4 separate regions of the Homo sapiens genome follow, and regions 1, 3 and 4 are each linked to region 2. Evidence: fine-mapped expression QTL. A gene starts in region 2. Each other region holds a variant in brackets. All regions are shown on one strand. Distances are from middle to middle.

The links.
Region 1: its variant is fine-mapped to the expression of RAB33B-AS1 in whole blood (TOPMed, PIP above 0.99).
Region 3: its variant is fine-mapped to the expression of RAB33B-AS1 in whole blood (TOPMed, PIP above 0.99).
Region 4: its variant is fine-mapped to the expression of RAB33B-AS1 in whole blood (TOPMed, PIP above 0.99).

Annotation. Positions count from the first base shown.
Region 1 is chr4:139,397,403-139,405,377 of GRCh38, reverse strand. No RefSeq gene overlaps it. Among named protein-coding and RNA genes, the nearest start is that of RAB33B-AS1, 53 kb to the left of the region's middle. The variant T/GCAT (reference allele first, on the strand shown) is at 3,806.
Region 2 is chr4:139,450,250-139,458,224 of GRCh38, reverse strand. RAB33B-AS1 (RAB33B antisense RNA 1) reads left to right here and starts at 4,184. Exons shown (of 1, transcript NR_159964.1): 1 at 4,184-6,550. RAB33B (RAB33B, member RAS oncogene family) reads right to left here and starts at 4,104. Exons shown (of 2, transcript NM_031296.3): 1 at 3,781-4,104. The coding sequence starts at 4,029. RefSeq lists enhancers at 3,807-3,856, 4,477-4,816 and a silencer at 4,077-4,406.
Region 3 is chr4:139,360,471-139,368,445 of GRCh38, reverse strand. It overlaps NAA15 (N-alpha-acetyltransferase 15, NatA auxiliary subunit), which reads right to left. Exons shown (of 20, transcript NM_057175.5): 13 at 7,818-7,946; 14 at 6,509-6,722. Among named protein-coding and RNA genes, the nearest start is that of NDUFC1, 62 kb to the right of the region's middle. The variant T/AT (reference allele first, on the strand shown) is at 4,048.
Region 4 is chr4:139,476,258-139,484,232 of GRCh38, reverse strand. It overlaps RAB33B (RAB33B, member RAS oncogene family), which reads right to left. Exons shown (of 2, transcript NM_031296.3): 2 at 7,624-7,975. Among named protein-coding and RNA genes, the nearest start is that of RAB33B, 26 kb to the right of the region's middle. The variant T/A (reference allele first, on the strand shown) is at 5,882.

The DNA.
Region 1 (7,975 bases), 53 kb after region 2:
TTTAACAAACAGCCTCTGTGTGATCCTTTTGACCACACAATTTGTAGAGTTAACGCTGAAATTTTCATTAGCAACAATGAAAGCACACACAGGCACAATATTAATATAGATTAATATCAGCCTATTTTGGTCAGAAAGGCTCATTTAAATGTTTAAGAGACAGAAGTCCCAAATTGTAGTAATTTCTTCCACTAGCAGGAGGAAGCTCAGAATTAGTTTTTCTACAACACTAGAGGAATACTACTCAAAAATAAAAAGGAATTAACCATTGATACATGCAACAACACAGATGAATCTCAAAGTAATTGTGCTGAAAGAAACCAGACCCAGAAAAAGATAAATTCTATATGATCTCATTTATATAAGACTCTAGGAAATGCAAACTAATCTACACATACAGAAAACTGAGGGCAGGTACTGAGAAGGGTAGGAGGGGGGCGTTACAGAGAGGCATGAGGAAACTTTTTGGGGTGATAGATATGTTTACTACTTTGATTGTAAGGATGAGGTCGCAACTCTGTGCGTGTCAGTGGTATATTTTAATATGAACGGCTTATTTTATGTAAATTCTACCCCTATAAAGCTGTTTTTTTTAAAAAAAAAAACTTCTCTTTGAGAGACATCACCTTTGTCTTTTAAACCATCTAATGTTGAATCTAAAAGTTCAGTGTAAAGTTTAATAAAATCAGAGTGTGTATGTGTCTTAATTTCCAGGACATATAATCATAGTGATTAAGCCAAAAGTGCTTATATGATTACCTATAAACTATCATAGTTAAATGACTAAATACCCTGCATAAGGTAAAATGATTATTTTATTCCTATAGATTGAAATTGCCCAACTTTTTATTAGAGAATAATAGATTAGAGGGCATGTTGGCTCATACCTGTAAGCCCAATGCTTTGGGAGGCTGAAGCGGGAGGATCCCTTGAGGCCAGGAGTTGAAGATCAGCTTGGGCAACATAGCAAGACCACATCTCTACAAAAAAATTTAAAATAAAATGTTTATCCAAGCATAGTGGCACTCACTCACCTGTAGTACTAGCTGCTGAGGAAGCTGAGGCCTGGAGTTCAAACTGCACAACGCTGCACTTCAACCTATGTGACAAAGTGAGATCCTATCTCTAAAATAATTAATTCAGTTTTTATAATTAGGGAACATTTAAATTCAGATTATAAGTAAAAAATGGAATAAACAGTCCTGTTACCTGATATGGTTTGGATCTCCATCCCTACCCAAATCTTATGTTGAAATGTAATCCCCAATGCTGGAGGTGGGGCCTGGTGGGAGATGATTGGATCATGGTGGTGGTTTCTCATGGTTTAACACCATCGTCCCCTGGTGCTGTCGCCGTGATGATGAATTCTCACGAGATCTGGTTGGTTTAAAAGTGTGTGGCACCTCCCCCTTCTCTCTTGCTCCTGCTCCTACCATGTGAGATGCCTTGGTCCCCCTTTGCCTTCCGCCATGATTCAGAGTTCTCTGAGGCCTCCCCAGAAGCAGATGCTGCCATGCTTTCTGTACAGCCTGCAGAACCGTAAGCCAATTAAACCTCTTTTCTTATACATTACCCAGTGTCAGATATTTCTTTATAGCAGTGTGAGAATGGATTAATACACTACGTCATGCAAAATGTAAAAACAGGCAACTCACTGAGAGTAAACCTAATCAACTTGTTCATTTAGATATAAACTGTAGAGACGACACTGCCATCTAGTTGTTGAATACTGAGTATACTGTTGAAACATTCTTGACAATGTTCTATTTCTCTTTTGTAGACTTACAAGGAACACACAGAAGCCCCTAACCAATTACATCTCCTTCCTAGGAGTGTGAATGTGACTGCCATAGTGCAGCCCATGCTGCCCCTGGTAATTATATGCCTCAACCCAAGCAGGTGATTATGTATCCTGTGACTACCTCATGCTCAAGGCTCTTCCATATTACACAAACACACACACTCATACTCAAAAGCAAAACAAAAATAAAACAATCTGCTTGATCCCTGCCCTATAGAGATTAGTCTAGTCAGGGAAACATACAACTAAGCATTCGAATACAGTGTAGTGGGTGCTACGAGAGCAGAAGTACAGAAAATATGTAAGCTCCAACAAGCACCAGCAGGAGTTAAAGGTTTAGGGAAAATTAGTGGGAAGTTTATCTAAAATGAAAGCAGTGGATAAGAGGAGATGAGATTCTGCAGTGTCCTGTAAGCTATTTTATTCTAGAAGCAGTGGAAAGCTTTGAACTTTTTGAAAGACCTTAAGCAAGGAAAGGAAGTAATTAGATTTGTATGTCAGAAATAATATTCTGGTTTTAGTATACAGAATGGATTAAAAGGAGGTAAGATTAGAGGCAGGGAGAGCTTGTTAATTTAAGCAAGAGTAATTTAAGCAAGAGATGATGGTACTAAGCTAGGATTATAAACATGGAAATGGAGAGAAGTTGGAGGGTTTGAAAGATGTTCTGCAGATATAATAAATATGACTTGCTGAAAGCCAACTGTGGAGAATTAGGAAGATGGAAACACCAAAGATGACTTCCATGTTTCTGACTTCACAACTGAGTGCATGGTGGTGTCCAAAAAGTGGAGGAGCAGGTTTTGAGATAATAAAATTCATTTTTACTCCTATTGAGCTGGAGGCACTCACGGTGTATCTAAGAACAAACATCTATTTGACAACTGAATATATGGTGTGATGCTCACTATAGAGATCTGGACGCTTCAGCACATACATTATCGCTGACACACTGGGGTAGACATAAGGCACGCTGAGTCTATTTCAGGAAATGTGCCTAGACTTAAAATAGATATGCACATAGAGTGGAAGGAAGAAGAGTAGAGAAAATTGAGAAGGAATAGTTAAGGAGGCTCCCTACCTTCTCACTCCACCTCAGGCCGGCAAGCAGAACTTACTGTTACCCCCTTGGGCTCCCACTGTTTTCCATCTATGCATCTACCAAGGCATCTGTTATGTCATTGAATATACTTATCTTTCTCTCTCCTTCTACTAAATTATAAGGATCTTAGGGCAAGGATCATGTCATATTCATATTTGGATTCCCAGGACTTAACAACAGTGCTTGGCAGATAGTTTTTCTTACGACTTTTATTTAATAACTAATGATAGAAAAAATTCATTGAGTACTTTCTGTGTTCTAGGCACTTTATATACAAGGTCTGTTATACTTGGGATATATTAAGACTCAGAAAATTTAAATGACTTGTCCAAGAAGCTTCCAGGATTCAGACCTGGCTCTGTATGAGTCCATGCTTTTTTTTCTACTGTATCATACTGTCTACAACAGACTGGTGAATGAAATCTATCTTTAACAAAAGAGGAAAAAAGGAATTGCATCTTATATAAGGCACAGATACTGATTCTTATGCTAAACACAGTGAAGTCCTGTAGAGAAAATCCTTGGGTTCTGTCTCCTGGGGTTACATGCCATGTATGCCAGAAAGTATAGCAAGTAAATGGCTGCATGTCCTAAACCATAAGGAAGTTCATACAGACTAAGCAAAATGCAACTAGTTACCATTTTGCACAGCAGCTCTTGGAAGGATCCAGCAGTTACCACTACACCATGGATCTAAGACACCCTCACAAAGATAGGCCAAACACGGCCTGCGACCTTCACCTTGTAAGTTTTGCTCAAAATAACTTGGCCAAAAGCTGAGAAACTTTAGTACCATCTAAACTTTTCATTCCAATTATGCTTGGTCACTGCTCAGAAGGCAGCTCCCTCTCATCCATCAGCTTCCTCTCAATTCTTGTCTCCAAACTGTGTACTGGATAGCA[T/GCAT]CCTGTCAACACACAATGCCCTCCCTCCAACCTTTCAAGTATGGGCTTTGGCAACCTATTCCACTATAAATAAATCCACCTATACACTCAGCGCTTATAAAACCTTTAATTCCTTTGAAGTTCATTCCATTCAATTTTGTCACCCTTCACCTTGCTTTGTCCCTAATACCTACATCATGTTATTCCTTTAAACCCCAAATTCATTTAATCATTTCCTAGGAGATTTCAACATTCATGTGGAATGTCGGTTGAACATCCAACCATCACAGTTCCAACGCCAGTTCAACCTCATTCCCTTGGTCACACTCCCCACTTTGTTATGGAGCGGTTCTGGTGATTTTCATACCCTTATGCTTCCATTCATATTACCCACAGTGCACCTGATCATTAACCTCATTGAGACCTCCATTCCTATAATGCCACCTCTTCTTCCAGTTTATTCTTGATCCCGCTTCCTTCTGTATCTGGCCTCAATCTCTTAAATTGGTCATATGACCTGCTCTAGTGCTTTTCTTTTTCTTTTTTTTCTTTTTTTTTGAGACAAGGTCTTGCTCTGTCGTCCAAGCTGGAGTGCAGTGGCCCGATCTTGGCTCACTGCAACCTTCACTTCCGGGGTTCAAGCCATCCTCCCATCTCAGCCTCCTGAGTAGCTGGGACTACAGGAGCTCACCACCACACTTGGCAAATTTTTGTGTTTTTTGTAGAGATGGAGTGTTGTCCAGGCTGGTCTCAAACTCTTGAGCTCAAGCAATCCTCTTGCCTCAGCCTTCCAAAGTGTTGGGATTACAGGCATAAGCCACCAAGGCTGGCCTCGTCAGTGCTTTCAATTACCCTCCATATTTTTCCATCCCTGGGTTATCTCTTCCAACTCACATTTCTATATCCTGCCTGGCACAAATGCTCTCAATTCTCTTCTATCCTTATCTTTCTCCTATATCCATTATCCAAATCACAATTCTGGATCAGTCCTATAATCTACCTGGCCCTGTAAGCCATTCAGATGAGATGCTAGAAACAATCACAAAATCACCATACTTTCATGATTTCCAAATTCAGTTCCATGGTTAACCCTGTTCATTACTGTTTTTGTGTTTCATCAGCTCTATTCCAAACCATCTCTATTCTCTTCAAGCCTCTAAACTAACCTTTTGCACCCTCCTACTTCATAAGTAATATCACCTATCACTTCCTACTTCACAAAAAATTTGGAGAACATCTAATATAAATCTCTCCTTTCACATCTACAAACTTATAACGATTCCCTTCCTTCTAGTTTTGAGAAAAGGTGTGAAGGTGTGTTTTCCTTTTTTTTTTTTTTTTTGAGATGGAGTCTCATTGTAGTGCAGTGGCACGATCTCGGCTCACTCCAGCCTCCACCTTCCGGGCTCAAGCAATTCTCCTGCTTCAGCCTCCCGAGTAGATGGGATTACAGGCGCCTGCCACCATGCCCGGCTAATTTGTGTGTGTGTGGTTTCGTTTGTTTTTTTGAGATGGAGTTTTGCTCTTGTTGCCCAGGCTGGAGTGCAATGGTGTGATCTTGGCTCACTGCAACCTCCGCCTCCTGGGTTCAAGCAATTCTGCCTCAGTCTCCCAAGTGACTGGGATTTCAGGCATGCACCACCACGCCCGGCTAATTTTGTATTTTTAGTAGAGATGGGGTTTCTCCATGTTGGTCAGGCTGGTCTCGAACTCCTGACCACAGGTGATGGGCCCGCCTCGGTCTCCCAAAGTGCTGGGATTACAGGCGTGAGCCACTGTGCCCAGCCCCTAAATCACCTAATTCTTTAATCTGAGCCCCAGTCTCATTTCTCAGATTCTGTTTATACTAGGCTACATAAAGCTCCTGAATACACTATTGTTTCACATACCTAAATTCAACATTCTCTGAAGCTCTTCCTAGCCTATCCAAACAGAGATGAGTGCTGACTCCCAGGAGTTTAGATATTGCTGTTGCATTCACTTCTTGTCTGTCTCCTTTAGGAGCTTGTGAAAAATGTGAGAGAAAGGACAATGTCATGTACCCCCAGTGTGAAGTATAGCACCTGGAGATAGCAGGCATTCAATAACTACTGGATGGATGGAGGCATTATGAAGTTTGCCAAGTTTGTTAACACTACTAAAGGTTTCAATGAATGTAAAAACAGTGGCAGATGGGTGGTTTTCTTGACTGTGGGAAAGGTAAAATAGTATAAAGTACTAGCAAGTATAAACACAGGCATACCTCATTTTATTGCATTTTGCTTTACTGTACTTTGCAGATACTGCATTTTTTACAAATTAAAGGTTTATGGCAACCCTCCAACAAACAAGTCTGTTAATGCCACCCCAAAGTCATGTGCTCATTTTGTGTCTCTGTGTCACATTTTGGTAATTCCTGCAATATTTCAAACTTTGTATTATTATTATTTCTGTTACAGTGATCTGTGGTCAGTGATCTTTGATGTTACTATTTTGACCGTTTGTGGGCACCACAAACTGTGCCCATATAACATCAGCGAACTTAATAAATGGTGTGTGTGTTCGGACTGCTCTACCAACCGGCCATCCCCCTATCTTTCTCCCTCTCCTCAAACCTCCTTATTCCCTGAGACACAATACTGAAATCAGGCCAATTAATCACCCTGCAATGGCCTCCCAGTGTTCAAGTTAAAAGAAGACTTGTACATCTCTCATTGTAAATCAAAAGCTAGAAATGGTTAAGCTTAATGAAGAGGCATGTCAAAAGCCAAGACAGGCTAAAAAAGCTAGGGTCTTGTGCCAAACCATTAATTCTTGAAGGAAATTAGAAGTGTTACTCCAGTAAACACCTAAGAAAACCTTATTGCTGATACGGAGAAAAAGTTTTAGTGGTCTGGATAGAAAATCAAACCAGCCACAACATTCCCTTAGGCCAAAGCCTAATCCAGAGCAAGGTTCTAAATTCAATTCTATGAAGACTGAGAGGTAAGGAAGCTACAGAAGTTTGAAGCTAGTAGAGGTTGGTTTATGAGGTTTAAAGAAAGAAGTCATCTCCATAAATAAAAGTGCAAGGTGAAGCAGAAAGTGCTGATGTAGAAGCTGCAGGAGTTTATCCAGATCCAGCTAAGACCATTGTTAAAGGTGGCTATACTCAGTAACAGATTTTCAATGTAGATGTAACAAGCCTTTTATTGGAAGAAGCCACCTTAGACTTTCACCGCTACAGAGAAGTCAGTGCCTGGCTTCAAATCTTCCAAGAACCGGCTGACTTGTTAAAAGCTAATGCTGCTGGTGACTTTATATTGAAGCCAATGCTCATTTGCCATTCTGAAAATCCTAGGGCCCTTAACAATTATGCTAAATCTACTCTGCCTGTACTCTATAAATGGGACAAAGCCTGGAAGACAGCACATCTGTTTACAGCATGATTTACTGAATATTTTAAGCCCACCATTGAGATCTACTGCACAAAAAGATTCCTTTCAAAATATTGCTGCTCATTAACAATCATCTCGTATCCCAAGAGCTCAGACGGAGATGGACAACGAGATTCATGCTGTTTTCAAGCCTGCTAACACAATGTCCACTCTATAGCCCATAGACCATGGAGCAATTTCAACTTTCAAGTCTTATGATTTAAGAAATACATGTTGTAAGGCTATTGCTGCCATAAATAGTGATTTCTCTGATGGATCTGTGCAAAGTAAATTGAAAACTTTCTGGAAAGGATTCACTATTCTAGATATCAATAAGAACATTCATGATTCATGGGATGAGGGCAAAATATCATTTACTGGAGTTTAGAAGTTGTTTCCTGTCCTCAGAGATGACTTTTAAGGGTTCAAGACTTCAATGGAGGAAGTAACTGCAGATGTGGTAGAAATTGCAAGATAACTAGAATTAGGCCAGGTGTGGTGGCTCAAGCCTATAATCCCAGCACTTTGGGAGGCTAAAGTGGGCAGATCGCTTGAGGCCAGGAGTTTGAGACCAGCCTGGAGTGAAACCCTGTCTCTACAAAAAATGCAAAAAATTAGCCAGGCATGGTGGCGTGTACCTGTAGTCCCAGCTACTCTAGAGGCTAAAGTGGGAGGATCACTTGGGCCCAAGAGGTAGAGGCTGCAGTGAGCTGTGATGGTGCCACTGCACTCCAGCCCGGGGGCAGAGCAAGACCCTATCTCAAAAAGAAAAAAGGCCAGACGTGGTGGCTCATGC
Region 2 (7,975 bases):
ACCCTTGAACCTCCAGCAATGCTCCCACCTCAGCCTCAGGAGTAGCTGGGACTACAGGCACAAGCCACAACACCCAGCTGGAACTTTATAACATAATGGAGAATATAATATAAAGGGCACTTGAGTTAGGGGAGATAAATCTTGAAGTACAACATTAATCGGGCATTTTGGCAACAATGTACAAAATAGATTAATTGAGGACTGGGAGATCAGTTAAGCTGCTGTAACTGTTAAGCTGCTGCAACAGTTCAAAGAGAGGTTAAAAAAAGGACTTGAACTAGAATTTTGAAGACAAGACAGTTAATAGAAAGTGTGCAGGTGGAAAACCAATTGGACTCAGAGCAAAGAGAGGGGTGAGAGTACAAGGATAAGAAGGATTAAAGTAGTACAACCTAGGTGAATTTTGAATTTCATATGATTTTCATGTCATGAAATCTTGATATTTTCCCTAAACATTAAAAAATGTAAAAAATCATTCTTAGATTGTGGCCATGTAAAAACAGGCAAAAGACCATTTTTGGCCCTCAAGCATAGTTTGCTGACCCTTGTGCCGTATCATAATTCTCTGTGCTTATCAAAATGTCTTCTTTCCAGCAATTACTCATTAAATATTTGTTTTACCAGTGTGGGGAGAGGTCCTGATTATTTTCCTTTAGTTAATATTAACATTTTGCACTTAACATGGGAACATTTCATTTCTACCGCTACAAAAAAGTAAGCTACTAAAATGTTCAAGTAGGACCTGCTGACCTCTAATGGGAGGCCGGATTAAATACAACACCAGGCTTTAATGGGTTGGTGTGTCTGCCACTGGAAAATGATTGTGCTAAAGGAATACAATTAGTCATGAAGGGGATATACACACGAGGAAGGAGCATAAGGATTAGAGTTAGGAGTCTCAATTTAAAAGCCGAATGTATTTGTATTTAAGGAATTTAATTTTATAATTTTATTCGACTTCCAAAATTTTGCAAACAAGATTTTCCTCTTTCAACTACCTGCACATACTGCTTAGGAATGGATTAGCAGATATAGGCTTTCTTAAATTTCATAAAACATTTTAACGGATTCTGAAAGGGCACTGTTGTTAAGTCATGCTTTCTGAAAATTTTCTAGTCCATGATTATCAAAACATTTAACGCAATATCTCATTTTTATCAAAGAAATAATGTCTAGAATGGCATTTTACTAGTAAAGTAATAGAGCTTTCCAGCTTTGAGATGAAAAATTAGGAAAAATGTCATTTTAGATCAGGCTACAATTTTCCAAAGACGTAATATGAACATTTCAGCAGCACTCAAGATGTATTACAGGTTAACCAAAAAGCAGCAGAAGCAGCACATAGAATAAAGCTCTTTATATCACTTTTCAGTTTTCGAAAAAAAGGGCACTAAAAAAAATTAAGCTCTGTGGTTTTAAAAAATGCCCAACATAGCTATATCTTTTCCTACTATAGAAACCTCAGAACATGTCTGTAGTCATTTCAACCACAATAAAAATCTCTCTCAAGTCTCACCATTGGTGGCACAAATCAACGGCTAGGGCCTTAGAAGAAAAATGATCTCAGTATTCAAGTCCATATCAATGTAACAAGTTAGGCTAAAGTTCAGTAGAAATAATCTCCCCAAAAAATATCATCTCCTTGCTCTTCCCAACCAGAATTATCAACTCTGTGCTCCCAGATTCGTCATACCTGTGGTTCTGTCTTATTTATCACTGCCAGCACTCACCTCAGTAGTTAGGTAATTGACTTTATACACTGCACATGCTTTATATTTTTTCAATACTATTATCTCTTAAATTTGCACCTGATTCATCTGTTATCTTTAAGTATAAATGGCAACCCAGGAACAGATAAAGGGCCCTCAAATCCCAACTCCTCCCCCACCCTCATTCTCTCCACTTTTGAAAGAATTTCCTACTTCCGTTTTTGTTTTTGTTTTGTTTTTTAAATTTCTCTCCCCTTAGCTGTCTACCTATGCCCTCCACTATCTCTGCTTTCAACTTTGGGTGTACAACTGCAGAACTAATGGTGGCAAACAGGAAAAATAATGTTAAGCCACCAGGAAAGACAAAGAATCTTTTTAAAGGCACCAACTATGAACCAGGTGCTTCATATATGTCCTCATCTGATCCTCACAGCAGCCTGATAAGGTATCATGATCCCAGTTTTTCGGAAGAAAAATACAGACTCTGAGAGGTTAAAGAATCTGCCTAAGGTCCAGGGTGACCAACTATTTTGGTGTGCCCAATACAGGGGGTCCCCGGGATGTGAGACCCAGTTTTAAAACCTGGACAGTCTTGGGCAAAGTTGGTCACCCTAGTAAGGACACGCAGCCCATCCCTACCCTTTCGTAGGTTCAGATATGAATCCAGGTTAGTTGGGCTCCAAAGCCCACGTACTTCCCAGATTCCTGCTTCTCCCAATCTTAACTCCCTTGGAACTTCAGAAGCTCCATTATTTTTCACCCCAAAGGCTTCTGGGCCAAACCTAATTCTGGTGAAAAATGTTTAGCCTTTTATTCTATCTTTTCTTCTGCAAGTATACAAATCTTTCTAAATTCCCTAATACAAAGCAACTCCAAAACCACCACTGAGAGCTCATATGGGACATGAAATACTAATGTGAAAAATTAAAAGACAGAAGCACCAAAGAAAGGTTAATTTCTTTTAACCCAGCTTACTTCACCTCTACCATCATTAGCAGTATAACCCGTTGGGGTGGGGGGCGATGATTAGGGAACTGAAAAATAAATTGTTCTTGCCTCTAAGATACGAGGGTAGGAACGTCTAAAGCAAGCCTGTTCTCCCACCACTCCCCATCCCCACCAAGAGACTGAGATAAAGACGATCGCTGATTTAAAGCAGTAGTATAAGGCAAGGTGGTTCCACCTATGTTTTAAGGAGTGGCATCAACAGGTGGCATTTAGTGGTGGCTTGCTATGAAGGTGTGTCTAAGGTTTATACCATCAAGAGGCCTAAGCCTTGTCATTGATCCTCATTCCACTGTTAGATTCCAACCCCTCAGAACTTCAAACCTGCCCTGGGGCCTATACTACCTTCTCCACTATTACTGTCACTCAGTGTCCCCAGTCCCAGGGACCAAAAATAACGACTTAAAGGGAATAAAGAATTGGGCGTGTGTCTGAGGTGGCATCATGAGAAATGCTTTTGGCAACCTGAGTAGGAACTATCACATATAGAATGTTTCTGCAGGAAAATAGATTTTTCTAAAATCAGTATCATAAAGAAACTACTACAGCAAAACTGTATGCAAGAGAATACCTAAGTACTTCCTCAAAGGCAATAGGCTTTACTTCCACAACATCTAAGGCACTGCTCGAATGAATGTTTAATAACTATTACTGATTAAATGAATTTTCCATTCTCGCGCAATTTCACTGTTTTTCCTCCGTTCATATTTGACTGACTCCCAGCACACGACACACACAGTAAATGGGTCGGTAGATAAGCCCTACACTCCTGAACTCAAAGTGTGGTCCACGGACTAGCTGCACCTGCATCATCAGCGAGATTATTAAATCATAGCCTGCATTTTCAAAAACAAGATCCCCAGGTAAATCGCATGCACAATGAAGTCTGAGAAACGCTGCCTTAGAAGTTTGCAGTATTGCAATCCTTCCAATCCCCAACTCCAATCTCATCAGCGTGAGAAAAAAATGGAGCGCACACACACCGTGCACACGGCCAGCGACCAGCCCACGGTGGGGTTGGGACACCTGTCACCCTGTCCTCCCCAACAGTTCCCCATCCGCTCACCTTGATGCGCTCCCCATCAATCTCCACCGCTCGTTCTCGGAAATCCACCCCTATCGTGGCCTCGGTGCGGTCGGGGAAGCGGCCAGCGCAGAAGCGGTAGGTCAGGCATGTCTTGCCCACATTGGAGTCGCCGATCACGATTATCTTGAAGATGCGGGAGCGGGCAGGAGGCAAAAACCCTGAGGCCCCTGACACTGCCCCGCTGGACGAAAAGCTTGCCTCGAGCGACGACTCCATCTCCTCAGCCATTCCCCCGACCCGCCCCAAACTGAGGCGGAGGAAAGGAGACACAGAAAGGCTGAGAGATTACGCCACCGCAAGAGCGCGCGCCCAGCCGGCCAGTTCGGCTGCGCAACTTCCCAGGAGCCACCGCCCACCAGCCCCGAGCGCGCCTGCGCACCTTCCCGCCCCGCCCTTGCCCGCACAGGTGTGGCACCCGCCCGCCCCGCCGCACGGAGCCGCCTGCCCGCGGCCACACGCCAGGCGTCACTCGGGCTGGCGCCGGTCTACCTAGGCAGGCGTGGGACCTGTCGGGGGCTTCACGGCAGCGCGGAAGGCCAGCCTGCAGAGAGGCTGGGCCCAGCGCCCTGACTGACCCAGCCCCGCCACGTCCAAGGTTCCCGCCCTCTGGAGGAAGCCGCGCAATCACTCCGGGGGCGGGGAGAGACAGACAACTGAGAGGAAGGAGGTACCACGGGCACTCTCTCGCGAGAGGGCCGCAGAGCCGCCTTTGACGGGGGCGTGTACCTGGAGAGCAACGGTAAGGACGGAGCCGACGGCTCCGGCGTCGGGTCGGTTCCGGCATCGACGTATCGTTTGGTCGCCCCAGAGAGGAGACAGGTTTCTTCAGCTTGCCGCTGAGGATGTGGCATCGGCTGCGCTCACCGCCGCCGCCTCTGTGAACTGCGGGAGTTGGGACAGCGGCCAGGGCTAGATGGGTGGGACGCGAGTCCTCGCCGAAAGCTTGCCCTGTGCGGGGCGCACTTGGAGGCGAGCTCTGGGCCGTGGCGAGTTTTGCAGCCTAAGGTCTTGGCAGGCGCATTGCTGTGGGCTGCCGGAGAGCAGGCTGGAGTTCGAGACCGCCCACCGGAGAGCAGGCGAGAGTTCGAGGCCTAGGTACAGCGCATTTCGCTAGGCATCCCCAAGAATATCCGCGTGATCCTTGTGGCCAGAGTTTGTTGAGCTAATATCCCCAGCCCAAACAGTAGAGCACATCACATGTCGGCCACCTGGGAGCGTTGAACCTGGTAGTTACTAGGCGCCCCTGGTGGAAATAAAACTCATTATGCCCTAGTTATGTCTTAGTGCCTGGGTGACGATGATGTAGCGGTTAAAGATTAACTGAGCGCACTTAGAGGTTGTCTTTGTCTACCTAAGGAAAATATCAATAGATTAAACCCCCAACCTTAAAGAATCTCCGTGAATTTTTCTGAGGAAACGTGCAATATTGTCATACAAAAGGCCCCAAATATGCAAACATTGCTTTTTGTTAAAAGTTTGTTTTGTTTTGCAGTGACATCTGTTTGAGCAGATGAATATGCCATTGGGAAAGTCAAGGACTGTCGGAGAGGAGGACATGGCAGACCTTAACTAAAGTGAGGGGGACAGTAGAGCACTAAAAGTTCTAGGAAAGGAGATGAACTGCTTATTCCATCAGATGAAAATATAGTCAGAACAGATGAGTAGTAGAACTTAAACATGCCCGGAGTTGCCAGGAATTTGCAAAAGCCTTGATATAATTCCTGTTGCTGTAGAAAGACTTTCTACAGTCACTAATATATCAAGTTATGTTCACTAGAAAAAAAGTTTACTTAGTTTATAGAAATGGGCTGAAAAATCCTAATTACTTATCTGTGAGGTTATTTTCATGAAGGTTAATCATCCAGAAACTATTAGAGAGCCTCGGAATATATTTCTTCTAATCTGCTCTACCTATCCCATTCAAAGGAGGGAATCTGAAGATTTAAGGACAAAGAGCAGTTGAAAACTCAGAGCTGTGGTTAATGGGAGAATTTCAAGGATGGTGAAAAAAACTAACATCATTGCATCCCTGTTTTTTGTATTCTGGACTTTTTAGTTTAGCTCTTGGTAAACTACATCAGAAATTCTTTATGCTAACTCTAACACACATTTTGGGGTATTGCTAATTTAATCTTTGAATACTGTTTTTGCTGTTTCATGATTATATGTTATGTCCTACCAGCTAGATTGCCAACTCTTGACTACTGACTGGAAGTTTATTGTTTATTCAGCAAATAATGAATTAAGTCAGTGAAGTGAGAGATTTCGTGTGTAAGGATTGTTAACTTGAACATTTCACCAGTTACACACAGTTCAGCCCTACTTAAATTTTAAAAATCATTGTTGGCACTTGACATTGTTATGAGGAGTTTTGTATTTTCAACTTGTATTTTGAGAGTGTCCTCATGTGACTGAAGTATGTGCTACTCTTCTTAATTGAATAACCCCAGAATCTCCAGAATTGATAATTGGAGGAAATTCTACTGTTGGAAAGAATGGATGGATTATACAGCCCTGTTTTTTGACTGTTCATTTTGTCCTTGGAGTCACTACCACTTGGCCTCAAAGTGTGAACATGTAACCCTTTCCTTAATACTTTGCTACACAGCTGAGCAGAAACTGTAAATTTGGATCCTTTGTCAGTACAACTTAAAATGGAACAATTTCAATGGCTTAGGGTAAGATAAGTATGTAAAGATACTTTTGTAATAGAAGAAAAAACATTGGATATTAAAATCACACAGTAGTACCTGGGTGTGGTGGCTCATGCCTATAATCCCAACGCTTTGGGAGGCCAAGACAGGAGCACTGCTGGAGGCCAGGAATTTGAGACCAGCCTGGCCAACATGGTGAAACCTCGTCTCTACCAAAAAATACAAAAATCAGCCAGGTGTGGTGGCACATGCCTGTAATCCCGGATACTCGGGAGGCTGAGGTGGGAGAATCGCTTGAACCAGGGAGGTGGAGGTTGCAGTGAGCTGAAATCGCAAAACTGCACTCCAACCTGGGCAACAGAGTGAGACCTCCTGTCTCCAAAAAAAAAAAAAAAAAAAAAAAAAAGTGGGTGTGGTTGTGTACACCTCTACTTCCTGCTACTCAGGAGGCTGAGGCTGGAGGATCTCTTGAGCCCAGGAGTTCAAGTCTGCAGTGAGCTATAGTTGCACTGCTGCACTCCAGCCTGGGTAGCACAGCGAGACCCCCATCTCTAAAACATAAAAGTAAACAGGCTGGGTGCAGTGGCTTACACCTGTAATCCCAGCACTTTGGGAGGCCGAGGAGGGTGGATCATGAGGTCAAGAGTTGAGACCAGCCTGGCCAACGTGGCGAAACCCCATCTGTACTAAAAATACAAAAATTAGCCAGTCGTGGTGCCAGGTGCCTTTAATCCCAGCTATTCAGGAGGCTGAGACAGGAGAATCGCTTGAACCTGGGAGACAGAGGTTGCAGTGAGCCAAGATCATGCCATTGCACTTCAGCCTCGGGGACAAGAACAAGACTGTGTCTCAAAAAAAAAAAAAAAAGTAGAAAACAGAATAGCATAAGGATAATCTTATATACAAAATAAGACTACTCAATTTCTGAATTTTTTTTTTAACTAGATATGCCACCTCCTGATGACAGTGCCCATTTCGTAACTTGTCTTACTCAGAAACAGCTCTTAGATAATTTTACTCTTTAAGTTCAGGTCTGAGCACAGAGGACAAAGAATTCCCTTGATTGCCTATGAAAGAAAGGATTCTCAACCTTGGCACTATTGACATTTTAAGTCAGATAATTCTTTGTTGTGGAAGGTTATCCTGTGCATTGTAGGATGTTTATTTTATCAGCATCCCTGGCTTCTACCCAGTAAATCCCAGTAGCACCCCACCACCAACCAAAACTGTCTCAAAATGTTGCTAGATGCCCCTTGGGGACAAAAATCCTCTCCCTCCCTCCTCCTTGAATGCCACTGGCACTCCTTGAGCCTACAGAAGGGCTCTTCTCACAAGTTTGATACCCTGTACCTCCCAGTTGATAGTGGGAATTACTTCTCCTTTGAAGACACAATTCCAGTTACCCTGAGAAGTATGGCATTGGCCTTGCTGGCCTCCACCAAATTACTATATCACTGTGTTTGGTAACCCCAGACATCATACTAGGGCTTTAATTTCAGTATATAAATAGTAAATTAGTA
Region 3 (7,975 bases), 90 kb after region 2:
CCAGCTGGCAACTTTTTAAATTTTAAAATATAAATAGAGACAGGGTCTCACTATGTTGACGAGGCTGGTCTCGAACTCCTAGACTCAAGCAACCACCCGCCTCAGCTTCCCAAAGCATTAGGACTACAGGCATGAACCACCGTGCCCAGCCAACATCTTGACTTCAGCTGCCTGAGAGACCCAGAGTCTTCAGAAACATACAGCTAAGTGACTTCTGAATTCTTGACACATAGTAACAGTCAGATAATAAACGGTTGCTATTTAAAGCTGCTATGTTTTTGAGTAATTTGTTTTGCAGCAATAGATAAACAACATAGATTTTGGTACCTGGACATGAGATACTGCTGTAACAAAAACCTAAAATGTGGGAATAACTTTGGAGCCAGGGAGTTGCAAAAGGTGGACAGACTTTGAGTAGGGCTTTAGTGGAAGTTTGAAGAGCCTTGGACTATTCATAGAAGTCTAGACTTTGAGGAGGCTGCAGATGAGCCCTTAAAATGAAGTGAAGGATATGTAATAGCCACAGAGTAGCAGAAAGTTTAGCAACAGTGTTATAAAATGTGTCAAATGGACTCAGTGAGCTAACTAACTAACTGAAGGGATTTTCAGGCAAAGTGCCCAGGAAAAATGTAAGAGGACAAAGAAACTAAAGAAAAGAGACAGGGGCTTGATGGTTTTGAAAACTCTCAGTCTCTCCAGAAATGGCTTGCTGGGCAAAGATCAAAAAATATGTCAAGAGGGAAGGCAAAGGGGCTTGGCATTACAATCTTTTGTTACTCAGAATATGGTGGTGCCTCACTATTTAGTCTGAAGAAAGGCTCTCTAAAAAATTTAAGAGTATGACTCACAGATTCTCTCAAACAATAAAACTTCTAAGAACTTAAGGGTGTTCTCCCCTCCATAGAAGCTCAAGTATACGTGGATTCCAATAAGACTCACAAAAGATTCATGATGTTTATTCTATGGGCAGAAATAGTAAATCTGGAAGGAAAAGAATGACAGCACAAAATGAAAAGAGGTCTTTAGACTCTCAATATTTTACTGGTCAGAATACTGAAAAACTACTCAGTTGCAAACAACTGTTAACTTCCAAAAGAAAAAAAGGGTAATTCAGAAAGTGGAACCAGGAACTCAGAGGGCAGGGCCAAGAGCCACAGAAAATTATTCCAGTCTTGGGTCCTCATCAAAGAACTATTAAGCCATGCCCCACTGGACTTGAGGATGGACGTGGTAACTCCTGTGTGTCTCCTAATAATGTCTACAGTGGTCATCCTATGCCTGTCTCATTTTATATTGGGTGTGTAGTTGATAAATAACTTGTAATTTTAGTTAACAGGATTTCATATTAAAAGAACTATAATTGAAATGTCACACTTAAGGTTAAAAATAAAAATAAAAAACTATACTCAAGGAGCTGCTTCAGCACCTGTACCTGATTTACATGACAAGATTCTGAACTTTAAGCTAATGTTACAATGGGATAGACTTCTGAAGGCCTTGAAATGGCTAACTATATTTTGCATATAAGAATAATGTAAGCTGGGCGTGGTGGCTCATGCCTGTAATCCCAGCACTTTGGGAGGCCAAGGCAAGAGGATCACTTCAGCTCAGGACTTTGAGAACAGCCTGGGCAACATAGCAAGACCCCACCTCTACAAAGGATTTTTAAATTAGTTGGGCATGGTGGCATGTGCCTGTAGTCCTACCTACGTGGCAGGCTGAGGTTGGGGGACTGGCTGAGCCCAGGAGTTTGAGGCTGCAATGAGCTATGACTGAGTCTCTGCACTCCAGCCTGGAAGACAGAGTGAGACCCTGTCTCAAAAATTTAAAAAAAAAAAAAAACCCAAAAATGATAATGTAAATAATTTGTAACCAAAATGCAGACCACGGCAGTTAAACTTATGTCTACAAATTCTTCAATTCTCCTCCCCTCAAATATAGGTTGTGCTTGGTGACTCTTTTCTGACCAATTAGAATGTGAAGGAAGTAATGGTGTGATGTCAGGAGAACAGAACATTAAAAAGGTGTTGCAGCTTCTTCCTTTCTCTGTCATCATTAGCTACCATGTCTTCAGAAACTTTAGAAACTATGGAGAGACTAAGAACTAAGGTCTCATGCCAACAGCCAGGTTGAGTAAGCCATCTAGGAAATGGATCCCTTCAGTCCTAGCCAAGCCTTCCAATGATGGCATGCCCATCCAAAATCTCAACTACAACTTCCTAAGAGACCCTGAGTCAGAGTCACTTAGACACTTCTGAATTCCTGACCCAAAAAAAGGGTTATTTTAAGCTGCTAAATTTAGGGATTAATTTATGATGCAGCAATAGATAACATAAAGCCAATGAAAACAAATGCATTATTTGTTTATCTTTCTCCTAGTGAAGAATCTCTTAATACTAAAAACAAAACGCAAAAAAAAAAAAAAATTCTAATAGAGACCAAAAAATTACATTCTGGAAACACAAAACTATAAATGGATGGCAACATAAGCACTGACCTTTTTAACAACTGGTAACATAAATGCTACCACTTGTAGCCTTGCTACATGATAGATATAATGCATACCTTATATTTTTTCTCTCTTTCTTTTTTTCTTTGAAACAGGGTCTCACTCTGTCGTCCAGGCTGGAGTGTAGTGGCAAACATGGTTCACTGCAGCTCTGACTTCCAGGGCTCAAAAGATCCTTCCACTCCTGCCTCCTGAGTAGCTAGAACTACAGGTGCTCACCACCATGCCTATTTTGTTTGGTTGGTTGGGGTTTTTTTTGTATTTGTAGAGACAGTTTCACCATGTTGCCCAGGCTGGTCTCGGACTCCTGGACTCAAACGATCCACCTGCCTTGGCCTCCAAAAGTGCTGGGATTACAGGTGTGTGCCACTGCACCCAGCCCATACCCCATACATTGTATTTCATTTGATGTCCTCAACAACCTCACGAATTAGAGTATAATATTATTTTATATACGAGAAAACTGAGGTTTCAGAGGAAAATAACTCAGAGTCATGGTAAAAGGCAGAGCAAGGATGTAAATCTACTTCACTTGGACTCCAAAGTCTAGGCTTCTTCTATGCTATACTAAACTCCAGATGATTAAAAAGACAAATGTAGGCCGCATGTGGTGGCTCACACCTGTAATCCCAGCACTTTGGGAGGCCAAGGTGGGTGGATCACCTGAGGTCAGGCGTTCGAGACCAGCCCGACCAACATGGAGAAACCCCGTCTCTACTAAAAATACAAAAATTAGCCAGAAGTGGTGGCAGGCGCCTGTAATCCCAGCTACTTGGGAGGCTGAGGCAGGACAATTGCTTGAAACCAGGAGGCAGAGGTTGCGGTGAGCCAAGATTGTACCATTGCACACCAGCCTGGGTGAAAAGAGCGAAACTCCATCTCAAAAATAAATAAATAAATATTAAAATTTATCATGAAGCATTATTAGTACTACCTCTATAGAAAAAAAGGCAGCAAATACACTTTTGTTCCTACTAATCACCACTGTTTCAGCAACTCTAACCATACCAGAAGACATAAGGGGGAAAGGTATAAATATTGAAAGAAATAAAACTACTGCCATTTACAGATTAACATACTGGCCTACATAGAAAATTTTCAAAAATCAACTGAAAAATGATTCAACCTAGTATCAGAAACTTTCTGGAAGACAAGCTAATTCTACCGTGTATGCATAAGCAAAAATCTGCATGTAAAAACACGAAAATTCTAAAGACACAGTGTTAGATTGAGAAAAATGGATCATAACAACAGAAACCTATCTGTGTACTGATGTCAATACCATGTAGTTTTAATCATATCTTTAATATATGTTAGACCAAGAAACCATGCCTATGACCTACTACATTATTTTTTTCAGAATTTATCATGATAAAGGTAGCATTTGAAATCAGCGAGGAATACAAAAACCTACTCAATAAATATTACAGAGGAAATAGCAGTCTATTTTGGGGAGGAAGGGAGGTGGAAAGCCACCCTCCACCTTACAACGTATATAAAAATTAACTCCAAATGTTTAAAGAGCCAAATCTAAAAAA[T/AT]TGCAAAGCAGAAGTATTAGAAGAAAAACACAGAAGATATTCATAAATATATTTTAAATTTTTAAGTAGAAAAAGCCTTTCTAAGCAAGACCTAGAAGCCACAAAAAAAGACTAAATATTAAAAATTAAAACTTGTATATAATGAAAGATACTCATCTTAAAGGATAAAACCTAAGTGAAAAAAAGAAAACATATAATCCACTCCATTAAAAATCTAGAAATTGGTCAAACATTGTGGCTTATGCCTGTAATCCCAACAATTTGGGAGACCAAGGCAGGAGAATCACTTGAGCCAAGGGGCTCAAGACAAGCCTGGGCAACATGGCAAGACCATGTCTCTACAAAAATAAATTAGCTGGGTGCAGTGGCACGCACCTGTAGTCCCAACTACTCAGGAGGCTGAGTTGAGAGGACTGCCTGAGCCCAGGAGCTCAAGGCTGCAGTGAGCTATGATCGCACTAGTGGACTCCAGACTGGGCAAAAGTATGAGATCCTGTCTCAAACAAAACAAAACAAACAAACAAATAAAATATATTAATTGTAAACTAGATATTTTGCCCAACATACAAAAATGTAAAAGAACAATAACCTTCAGAGCTGGCAATAATGTAAAATAAAAGAAAATCTCAATACCCATGTTGGTGGTAATAAAAACTGATGAACCTTTTATCCCAAATTCTCATATCCTTCAACCCACCGATTTCCACTTCTAATAATCCATGCTAAATAAATATGCACATAATTATGTACAAGGACATTTACTATAGTACTATAATGGTGAAAAAATTCACATAGATTCCTACAGTCACTAAAATGTTAACAGTGAAAATAATAATTATGATATGCAGACATGGAGCAATACTATTAAATGGGGTAAAAAGTCTAAGTTGCAGAACACTGAGTATGATATAAACCCAATTATGGACTAAAGAAAAACAAATCAAACAAGAAACCCTGCAAAGAACCATCCTGAAATGCATGTGTATATGTACACATAGAACTCTGGAAACTAGTTGTGCATAAAGGGAATTGATCCTTTCACAGGGATAATTGCTGGAATGAAGAATGGGTGGGAGAAAAGTGAAAGGGGATCTTCATATTTGCTAAGTATACTTCTGTATTAATAGTCTCAGCTTTGAAAAGTTAATTGTGTATTATTTGTATAATTTGAAGAAGAGAAGGAGGGAGGCAGAAGAATAGAAAGAAAAACAAAAGAAGCCAGAGGGTCATAGCTCTCAACTTTAACAGTAAATTGTCCAGCAGATTCTTCTTACTGGTGTTTTCTTCTAAGTTGAAGCAACACCAACAGGTAGAAAGAGATTCAAGTGATATCTGTACAAAGGCTTCAGTATGTGACCTTAGAAATTTCTAAACTGTCCTTAGGCAACAGGAAGTAAAACTTAACGACAAATTAGCAAAATAATTCAAAAGCTGTTTAGCAGGAAGAAGGATATAGAAAGTAGCCAATCATATCCTCAAAAAAGAAATAGGCTTAAAAGAAAAAAAAATTAAACACACTTTTTATGCCCCAATTCCTACAACATTTTTGCCATGAGTAAGGCACAAAATTCATATTTTTGTACGTATGAGATCACTCATTCTCAGGTTCTGTCCCAAATAACTGTCTAAGAAAGACTTCTCCCTAGTCATTCCGATACCCTACTATAAAAACGGTACATTAAAAATGAGTCAAATGATAAGTCACTGTGCAATTTTCCTAGCTTTATCCCAAGCTGGTTTTTAATGTTCAAGCAATATTCATTTTTAGTAGGTTAATTATAAATTACTATTAAAAAGAGGAATAGGCTGGGAATAGTGGCTCATGCCTGTAATCCCAGCACTTTAGGAGGCCAATCCCAGCACTCTGGGAGGCCGAGGTGGGCAGATCACTTGAGGTCAGGGGTTCGAGACCAGCCTGGACAACATGGTGAAACCCCGTCTCCACTAAAAACACAAAATTAGCCAGGCGTGGTGGTGGGCACCTGTAATCCCAGCTACTCAGAAGGCTGCGGCAGGAGAATCGCTTGAACCTGGGAGGTTGCAGTGATCCGAGATCATGCACTGCACTCCAGCATGGGAAACAGAGCGAGACTCCATCTCAAAAAAATAACTAGTAATACTAATAGCCAACACTAATGTAGAATTATAATACTAATTATACAATTAGCAATCTAGTACCTGTAAAATAGTTAGCAATTTATAATTTTGGGTAAACCAGATATTAAATGTAAAACTCATAACATGCAAACTTCTTAAATGCCAATGAATAACTGCAAATTAAATTCTTGTTTAACTTTGGAAGCATAAAAGTAAACATTTTTCTTTTGTTGTTTAGAGAACCTTGTATAATATCTTTCCTCGTGGTGCTCAAGACATGGAGCAATACTATTAAATGAAAAACATAATACACATAAATACACATAAACACATCAGAGCACAAGAAGAACTCTGAATATTATACCTGTATCAGCTTCGTGTTCTTTATTCTCATCTGTAAGGGGGTTGTCATGAAGCTTCAAATAGATCTCTATAGCAATTCTTGCTGCCTTGAAGTAAAATGGATGCTGTCGAAGTACATCTTCTAGTTTTAATAAGTCCACATATGATCTAAGGGTAATCTTCCTCATACAGTATGTATGAAAGTCAAACTGGTCATCAGTGATTTCTATAAAATGCTAACAAAATTATCTTTTTATTATTATACCGAAGTACAGCAATGGCTAAGAAAACTATAAAATCAAAGCATTGGAATACTTGTTACTTTGGCATGAAAAAAACTAGTAAAATTTTAAAAAAACAATTACAATTATTCAACAGGAATATTTTGCATTTCAAATAAGCAAATACAGTTAGCCATTGTCTAGCACAGGATATGGCATACTGCAGGCACAGAATCATTTGTTGAAAAAGGAAGCTTTAAAAATGTTTATTCATTATCCCTTCCTTAATTATACTTAAAGCTATTGTGACAACATCAAACATAATTTATTTACATAGTAGTGCAAGTAGACTCACATGTTAAACATTGAGTTTTTATATTTAGAATCATTTGCAAAGGATTATAAGATGTATTTGATAATTTTTTTTTGAGGATACAAATCTGAATCCTATGCAATGTGATGCTGGTATGTGGAAAAGAAATCAATTAGCAAGTAAGTCAAGCAATCAGGAACTTGATGCATTTCAACTAAGCTTTGGTATTCTATACTTGACAATATTGCAAATGTGAAATTAGTTATATAAACTATGTTTATCTGTGTAAAACACAAAAAAGAAAAACCAACCACTAGTCATGGAAATGAGTCAGACGTGAAGAGAATTAAGAAAACAATTTTATCAAACAGCATGAAATTAGATAAGCTACAGAAGAAATATTGTGAAAAGTCTTCCAACATTTATATCTTACCAAGGGTATATGGCATCATCAATAAATTCTACAATGAACAGGGTCCTAGGAGTACTTTAATCAGCTGTGTATGTACTACTAAAGCGGCAGCAGCAATTTGGAAGGTTCAAAAATCAATAAAAACATAGCCAAGATACAAATTTTCCATAAAGTTTTTTAAAAAAGAGTTCTTACCACAAGACAATAGAGACCCTGGCTGAAAATGCAGTCTATATTTCCAGTATGAAAACTGAAAAAAGTGAATACTGATTTTAAAAAGCACCTACTATGAATTATAAAGAAATAGAAGAGAAAAAAACTATGAAATTTGTCCAAAACCATCGACAGAATAAAACAAGAAAACTTTTATGTAGAAGGTACTTACTCTCTCAATCTCATGACATTTCTTAAGTGCTTCACCAAATTTATTCATTGCTTTATAAGCCTGGGCACATTCTGTTTGGAACCACATGCACTGCATTTCATTCAAATTCTCTACCGCTGATGTTCCTTCCTATACAGAAATCAAATATTTTCAAGATC
Region 4 (7,975 bases), 26 kb before region 2:
AACATCTGGGATTCAGCTTCTTTGTGGTCTCACTCCACAGTTTAAGCGCGGCGTCCTCTGCCTCTCAGCAAGAGAGGACAGAAGCAAGGGTCAAAGGCAGTGGAAGTGATAGATCCAGGTAGGAGACTAGATGTGGGAGTTGGGGGAAGGGAAGCCTCAACAGAAGCTGGAGGTTTTGAGGAAACACAGGAAGAAAAATAAATTTAAGGAGGAAGATTGAGTTTATACATTTTATTTTATTTTTTATTTTTATTTTTTGAGACTGAGTCTCACTGTTGCCCAGGCTGGAGTACAGTGGTATGATCACGGCTCACTGAAGACTCAATCTCCTGGGCTCAAGCGATCCTCCCACCTCAGCCTCCTGAGTAGCTGGGACCACAGGTACAGACCACCACAGTCAGCTAATTTTTAAATTTTTTGTAGAGATGGTGTCTCTCTTTATTGCCTGGGCTGGTCTCAAACTCCTGCGCTCAAGTGATCCTCCCACCTCAGCCTCCCAAAGTGCTGGGATTACAGGTGTGAGCCACCATGCCCCACTGTTTATACATTTTAAATTACATGTTTGAGTGGTCCACAGATACTGCAAAAGAAAGATGGCCCACATGCAGCAGCCAATTCAGGATTTCAGAGGTAAAGGTGAGGCTCTAAACATGGGTTCAGGAATCAAGTAACTCTGAAGGTGAGATCGTAAAGGAAAGGGTGTTCAGCCAGAAGAGGATGGAAGAAAAAGGCTCAGGGAGTGCCTCCCTGTCTAGCTGGTCATACACCTTATCCTACGTGATTAAGTTCCCAATGTTTTCAGAATTAAAAAATGTATGCTCCATAGCACCTTTGGATGTACAATGGAAGAATACACTCTCAGAAGTAGGCAACATTTACTAATCTTACATTTGCATAAGGAGTTTATGAAAATATAACAAATCACCAAATTAGCAAGGATTTTTTAGTTCACACTTTAGAAGTACTTCAGAAATGCATGAAAATAGCAGTATGCTGTGTTTCCCAGTGAAGAGCTTCAGAGGCGTAGTATCACTTTCTGCAGCAGATGCTGACTGGCTTACTCGACGCCTCCCCATCCTCTTCTAGTGTGCTTTCCTGCTGCAGAGCCTGGGATGATAAAACCTGTGATTCCCAAGATATATTTGCAGCTTCAGTTCTAGGAAGTGGGTAGAGACAGGGTCACAGGGAGAATGGCCTTTCTTTCCAGTGTGATGTTGAAGATTTCAGTACTTCTGGGACAGCTTTGGGGACATTTTGTGGCCAGTCCTGAGTGTCATAGGTGCTGAGGAGAGATAGTGGTGACAGTCAACTGTCTACAACATCTGGGCATTTATCTTGGCTACTATTGTCCCTGTCTTTGTAGCATCCAAATTTTGGTCCCAGGTCCTCCTAAAGATAACATAAGCTACCCCAAATTCTCTAAGTTCCTTTCTTCTTCTTCTTTTTTTTTTTTTTGAGACAGAGTCTCGCTCTGTCACCCAGGCTGGAGTACAGTGGTGGGGTCTCGGCTCACTGCAACCTCCACCTCCCAGGTTCAAGTGATTCTTCTGCCTCAGCCTCCTGAGTAGCTAGGACTACAGGCATGCACCACCACTAATTAGCCCAGCTAATTTTTGTATTTTTAGTAGAGATGGAGTTTCACCATATTGGCCAGGCTGGTTTCGAACTCCTGACCTCGTGATCTGCCTGCCTCAGCCTCCCAAAGTGCTGGGATTACAGGCGTGAGCCACCGCGCCCTGCCAGTCCCTTTCTTCTTAAATGAGCTAGGTGAGATCCCTAACGTATACCAGTTCCATAATAGACTTTACACATATATTTTCATACAGTAGTAAAATTGTGTACCATCAATTTTATCACAGACTGACAAATTTTAACAATTTAAAGCTAGATGTACTTTTCTAGGATAACTTAGATGAGGTATTAGTTAAGCCCAAATAACATTGGCTCGAACAAGATGTAAGTCTTCTACTTGACTCTCACTTACTGGTCCAAGCATAACTGTCTGGGGCTGTGATGGTAGCAGCACAGCATCTGGGACCCCGGTTCCTTCTCTTTGGTTGCTCTGCCACTCCTAGGGTGTTGCCTAGGAATGACATCTGCATGGCGCACCCATTGTTCACTAAGTCCCTAAAACGGTGTTTTCCCCTGGCGCAGGTTTAAAGGCTGGTAGAAAGGCACTAACTCAGGTTCTCCCAGCAAGTTCCTCTCCTTGAAGGACTGATGCGCTAGGGCAGTGAGTGGGCCCCAAATTGCTCCCTGACCACACGGGCAGTCCCTAAACAGGGATAGTGCAATCGTCATCCAAAAGTTTTAGTCCCAATGTCCCCAAGTCTCTTCCACATTTCACCTCAAGTGTTCTTCCAGTTAGAATTGCATTCATCTACAGGTACTCAAATCCCCTGAACAGTGGGGATTGTTTTTCTCAGCAAAATCATGAGGTAAGTAGCCTGAGCTGGTGTGGTAGCTGCAGGACACTGTTCTCCAGAGCATTTTGTAATGCCAAGGCATCCATGCCAGTGCTATAGCCTCCCTCCCACGTGCCAGCCATGGACAGAGGAGGAGGAAGCAACCAGAGGAAAGGGCAGGCCTCTTTACAGGAAAGCAAAGTTTCCCTGGAAATCCCTGGCAAGCACCTGCTCATATCTCTTTGGCCAGAACTGTGATATGTGGCCATACCTAGCTACAAAGGAGGCTGGGAACTGATTATCTAGTGGGCTATGTGGCCAGCAAAAGAAACCAGGGTTCTGTTAGTAAGAAAAGAGGGAGATGTGTTACGAGCTGAATTGTGCCCCTGCCCCCCGAAAAAAGATATTGGAGTTCTAATCCCTGGTACCTCAGAATGTGACTTTGTTTGGCGACAGGGCCCTTAACAGAGGTAATCAAGTTAAAGTGAGGTCATCAGGATGGGCCCTAATCCAGTATGACTGGCATCCCTATGAGAAGAGGAAATCTGGGCTGGGTGGTGTGGTTCATGTCTATAATCCCAGCACCTTGGGAGGCTGAGGCCGGTGGATCACCTGAGGTCAGGAGTTTGAGAACAGCATGGCCAACATGGTGAAAACCTGTGTCTACTAAAAATACAAAAATTAGCCAGGCGTGGTGGTGCACACCTTTATTCCCAGCTACTCAGGAGGCTGAAGCAGGAGAATTACTTGAACCCGGGAGGCAGAGGTTGAAGTGAGCCGAGATCATGCCACTGCACTGCAGCCTGGGCAACAGAGCGAGACTCCATCACACACACACAAAAAAGAGGAAAAAATCTGGCCAGGCATGGTGGCTCACACCTGTAATCACAGCACTTTGGGAGGCCGAGGCTGGAGGATCACTTGAGCCCAGGAGTTTGGGATGAGCCTGTGCAACCTAGGGAGACCTCATCTCTACCAAAAAAAATTTAAAAATTGGCCAGGCGCAGTGGCTCACGCCTGTAACCCCAGCACTTTGGGAGGCCAAGGCGGGCAGATCACAAGTTCAGGAGATCGAGACCATCCTGGCTAACACGGTGAAACCCCGTCTCTACTAAAAAAATACAAAAAAATTAGCCGGGCATGGTGGCAGGCACCTGTAGTCCCAGCTACTCGGGAGGCTGAGGCAGGAGAATGGCGTGAACCTGGGAGGCGGAGCTTGCAGTGAGCTGAGATGGCGCCACTGCACTCCAGCCTGGGCAACAGAGTGAGACTCCATCTCAAAAAAAAAAAAAAATTAAAAATTAGCTGGGCATGGTGACATGCACCTGTGTTCCCAGCTACTCAGGGGGCAGAGCTTGGCGGATTGCTTGAGCCCAGGAGGTCGAGGCTGCAGTGAGCCAGGAGAGAAATGGAACATATTCTCTCTCACAGGCCTCACAAGAAATCAACACTACTGATACTACCAGCCTCCAGAACTGTGAGACAATACATTCCTGTTTTTTATGCCACCCAATTTATGGTACTTTTTTCCTGCAGCCTAGGAAATTAATACAAGAGGGAAGACAAAAATTGGGTAGGCAACCTGCAGTCTCTGACACATCTATTTAAAAAAATAGGGTTTATAATCATTCTGAGCAAACTATCGCAAGGACAGAACACTGCATGTTCTCACTCATAGGTGGGAATTGAACAGTGAGAACACTTGGACACAGGGTGGGGAACACCACACACCGGGGCCTGTCATGGGGTGGGGAGAGGGGGGAGGGATAGCATTAGGAGATATACCTAATGTAAATGACGAGTTAATGGGTGCAGCCCACCAACATGGCACATGTATACATATGTAACAAACCTGCACATTGTGCACGTGTACCCTAGAACTTAAAGTATAATAAAAAAATAATGTTTATATTTAGAGCAGATTTAGGGTCACAGAAAAATGGAACAGAAACCATCAAGTTCCCACAGAGCCCCTGCCCATCCACACATACACACGGCCTCCCTCACTATGTACATTTATTACATTTGATAAACCTACATTGAGACATCATAATTATCCAGTACATAGCTAACATTCACTTGTGTGTGTGTGTGTGTGAGAGAGAGAGAGAAAGAGAGAGAGAGAGAGATTGACAGGGTCTCACTATGTCCCACAGGCTGGAGTGCAGTGGAACAATGTCAGCTCACTGCAACCTCTGCCTCCCGGGTTCAAGTGATTTTGCTGCCTCAGCCACCCAAGTAGCTGGGATTACAGGCGCCTGCCACCATGCCCGGCTAATTTTTGCATTTTTAGCAGAGACGGGGTTTCACCATGTTGGCCAGGCTGGTCTCAAACTCCCAACCTCAAGTGATCTGCCCGCCTGGGCCTCCCAAAGTGCTGGTATTACAGGCGTGAGCCACTGCATCTGGCCGAGAATTCTTATCTCAGGCAAGGTTAGTCTTTCTAATTATGACACAAAATGAGAGTCATGGAAAAGACTGCTAAGTTTCACTACATTAAAATTATTTTCATGCCAAAAACCATTAGAAGCAATGCCATTTGGCAAAAAACAAACTAGGAAAAAAAAATAAAACATCACTAACTTACCCAAAATATTCAGTATCCCTACAAAAGGCAAAAAAACAAAACCTGACAGAATGTGAACAGACAATTCAACAGAAAACAAAATGTAAACATTAAATATAAAAAGATGCTCAACCCTACTCATAAGATAAATGCCAGTTAAAACCACAGTGAGATATCATTTTTCACCTATTAATGTTCCTTCCAAATGTCAAAACCTTTGATAATAGACTGTGTTGTGAGTGTGTGAGGAATCAGGCATGCTTTTTATTACTAGTGCAACCTCTGAGGAGGGCGATTAGAAACCCAAATTGCAAACACAGATACCTTTCATCTAGCAATGTCACTTCTAGGAATTTTCCCTTTGTATATACTCACACATTTGAGAAATTACTTATGTAAAATGATATCCATTTTGGTAATGCTTGTAATAGCAAGACTGGAAACAACCTAAATGTTCATCAGTAGAGGGCTATCTAAATAATGGCCAACTAAAGGAATTCCATGAGACCTAAAAGAGAATGATGAAGCTTACATATTTTAACATGAATTCATCTCCAGGGTATACTGTTATGTGAAGAAACAGCAAATTCAGGGGCCAGGTGTGGTGGCTCGCACCTGTAATCCCAGCGTGGGAACTGGGGTGGGAGGCCAAGGTGAATGGATCACTTGAGCCCAGGAGTTCCAGAACAGCCTGGGTAAGATGGCAAAACCGTGGCTCTACAAAAAGTACAAAAAATTAGCTGGGTGTTGTGGCGTGCACCTGTAGTCCCAGCTACTTGGTAGGCTGAGGTAGGAAGATTGCTTTAGCACAGGAGGTGGAGGTTGCAGTGAGCTGAGATCACACCACTGCACTCCAGCCTAGGTTGCAGATTGAGACCCTGTCTCAAAACAAAAACAGAAACAAAAAAAA[T/A]TCATGGTACTGGTTCCTTGTGATAAGAACTGAGGAGCTGGGAGAAAGAGTGGGAAGGAGAATTCACCATTTACTCTTTTGTGAATGGTTCAAGTATTGAACCATGTGAATGTATTTCCTATACAAAAATTTAACTTAAAAAAAGAAGTCCCATTACTGATCACATTTTATTGAAACATGGAACTCTCCATTTGCAGCAAGAAAAGATTAATAATGAGGAGCTGAGAAGTAATAAAATGGCTCCATATACTCTGTTAAGTTTATGGAATGAATAACCAAAACAAAAGTTGAATTGTTTTTGTAATTTAAAGAATGTTCTGGGACTCAAAAATATACAGAATCTTCTATAATTAAACTACTCAGAACAAGAAAAATACCAAAAAGCATTAGGATATACAACTTAAAAATTTTAAATGACAAGTTTCATCTGACTCAAAACACTCTGAAAAACATATATGTAAATAAATCACAAGAATCAAACTTTTGATAAAGGCAAATTAAAGCAATGTAATAATCTAAAAAATAAAACCAAAGCCTGATATTTTAAAAAAACATTTGGCCACATACATGAGTGCAACTAGCAGCTCTAGAAAAGAATACTGACTAGTTCATGCAATGAAATTCCTGACCTTGGTCTCTAACTCCTGGGGGTTTTAGTTCTGAAATATCTCAAATCTGTATTTTTCTGCCAGTGCTCCAGTTAAAGCTGTTTCTTCTAGGCTATTTCAGTAAGCTGACTGACCATGACTTCATCCCCTCACCCTTCCCATTGCCGCTGGAATTTATGGCATAAATCTAACGGTCTCACTACCTTGCAAAATGCTTTCATTAGTTACCCATTGCCTAAATAGTAAAGTTCAAATGTTTTTGTGTGGCTATCTTCTTTTTTTGCTCCCCTTCCCCCAAAATACCTTCTCCCCTAAATGTGGAAATTGCTTATTTTATCTTTTTTGGCCATTGGTCTTGGGTGGACACCTGGATCTTGCCAGGCCAATTAACAGTCTATGCTGGAAATTTCAACTTGAGACTGAGAGTTCATTTCTCTTTGAATGACTGCAGCATCCAAAAGTTCAGAAGTACTCAGTGGCCATGTTTTCTGCTAATTAAACTTAAAAAATGGAAAAATCTAGTTATAAAAGAAAGAGAAAATGCAGATGTGCAGAGAAGCTGGACCCAGAGTTAGGAAACTGTGTGCTCAATCCCAGCTCTTCTTTTAGTCCAGTCACATCCTTGTCTTCAAGTCCAGTGAGACAAGTCAGACTCCTTACATTAAAATCCCCCTTATAGGCTGGTTCAGACTGAGTTTCAGATACTGCACCCAAGCCAGTCCTAATCCCACTGCTTATGGCAACTTGGCAGTTTAACCAAAATCTACCTTGCTAGCTTCATTTCCGTGTTCTGACCACATCTCCATTCTATCACATACTCACACTGACCTAGCAGTCATTCCCCCCAAATTCAACTCCACTCTTGAGCCCTGCAGTGCATTCACCTGGGATGACTTTCTTCCCTCTCCTTTACATGGAGAATGCCTCACATTTACCCTGAGATGCTGCATAAATGCTTCCACTCATTGTGAAGCTTTTTGATTATCTACTGCTCCCATATCCAAGTCAAAAGACCACTCCATATTCTGTGCTCATTGTCCTTTGTATATGCTTCTTTGATTACACTGATCACAGTATATTGTAGAATTCCTATTTGTTCATATACTATTTTGTAAGTTCTTCAAGGACAGTGTCTATGTAGCTCCACTAACACAAATAGAGAACACATGACCCATACTTGATAAATGTTTGATAAATCAGGTTATTCCAACAAACCAAGTGCATTCGCCCTTGCCACACAGGCTGTAGCAAACGTGCTCCCAAAATACATGACGAACTTCTTAATATCTGATTAAGAAAGCAGTCCTTCATGAATAATGTCAATTTTGTGTTTGAACACAAGGGTAACTTATACGTAAAATAAACTGACCAGGGGAAGCAGAATCAACATCAGAGGCCCCCACATCCCTAATCCTATGGTGTCTAAATCAGTAACTGCAATCTTATACCTGAGACGTAGTTCGTTCTCTTTTCTCATACTTTCTAT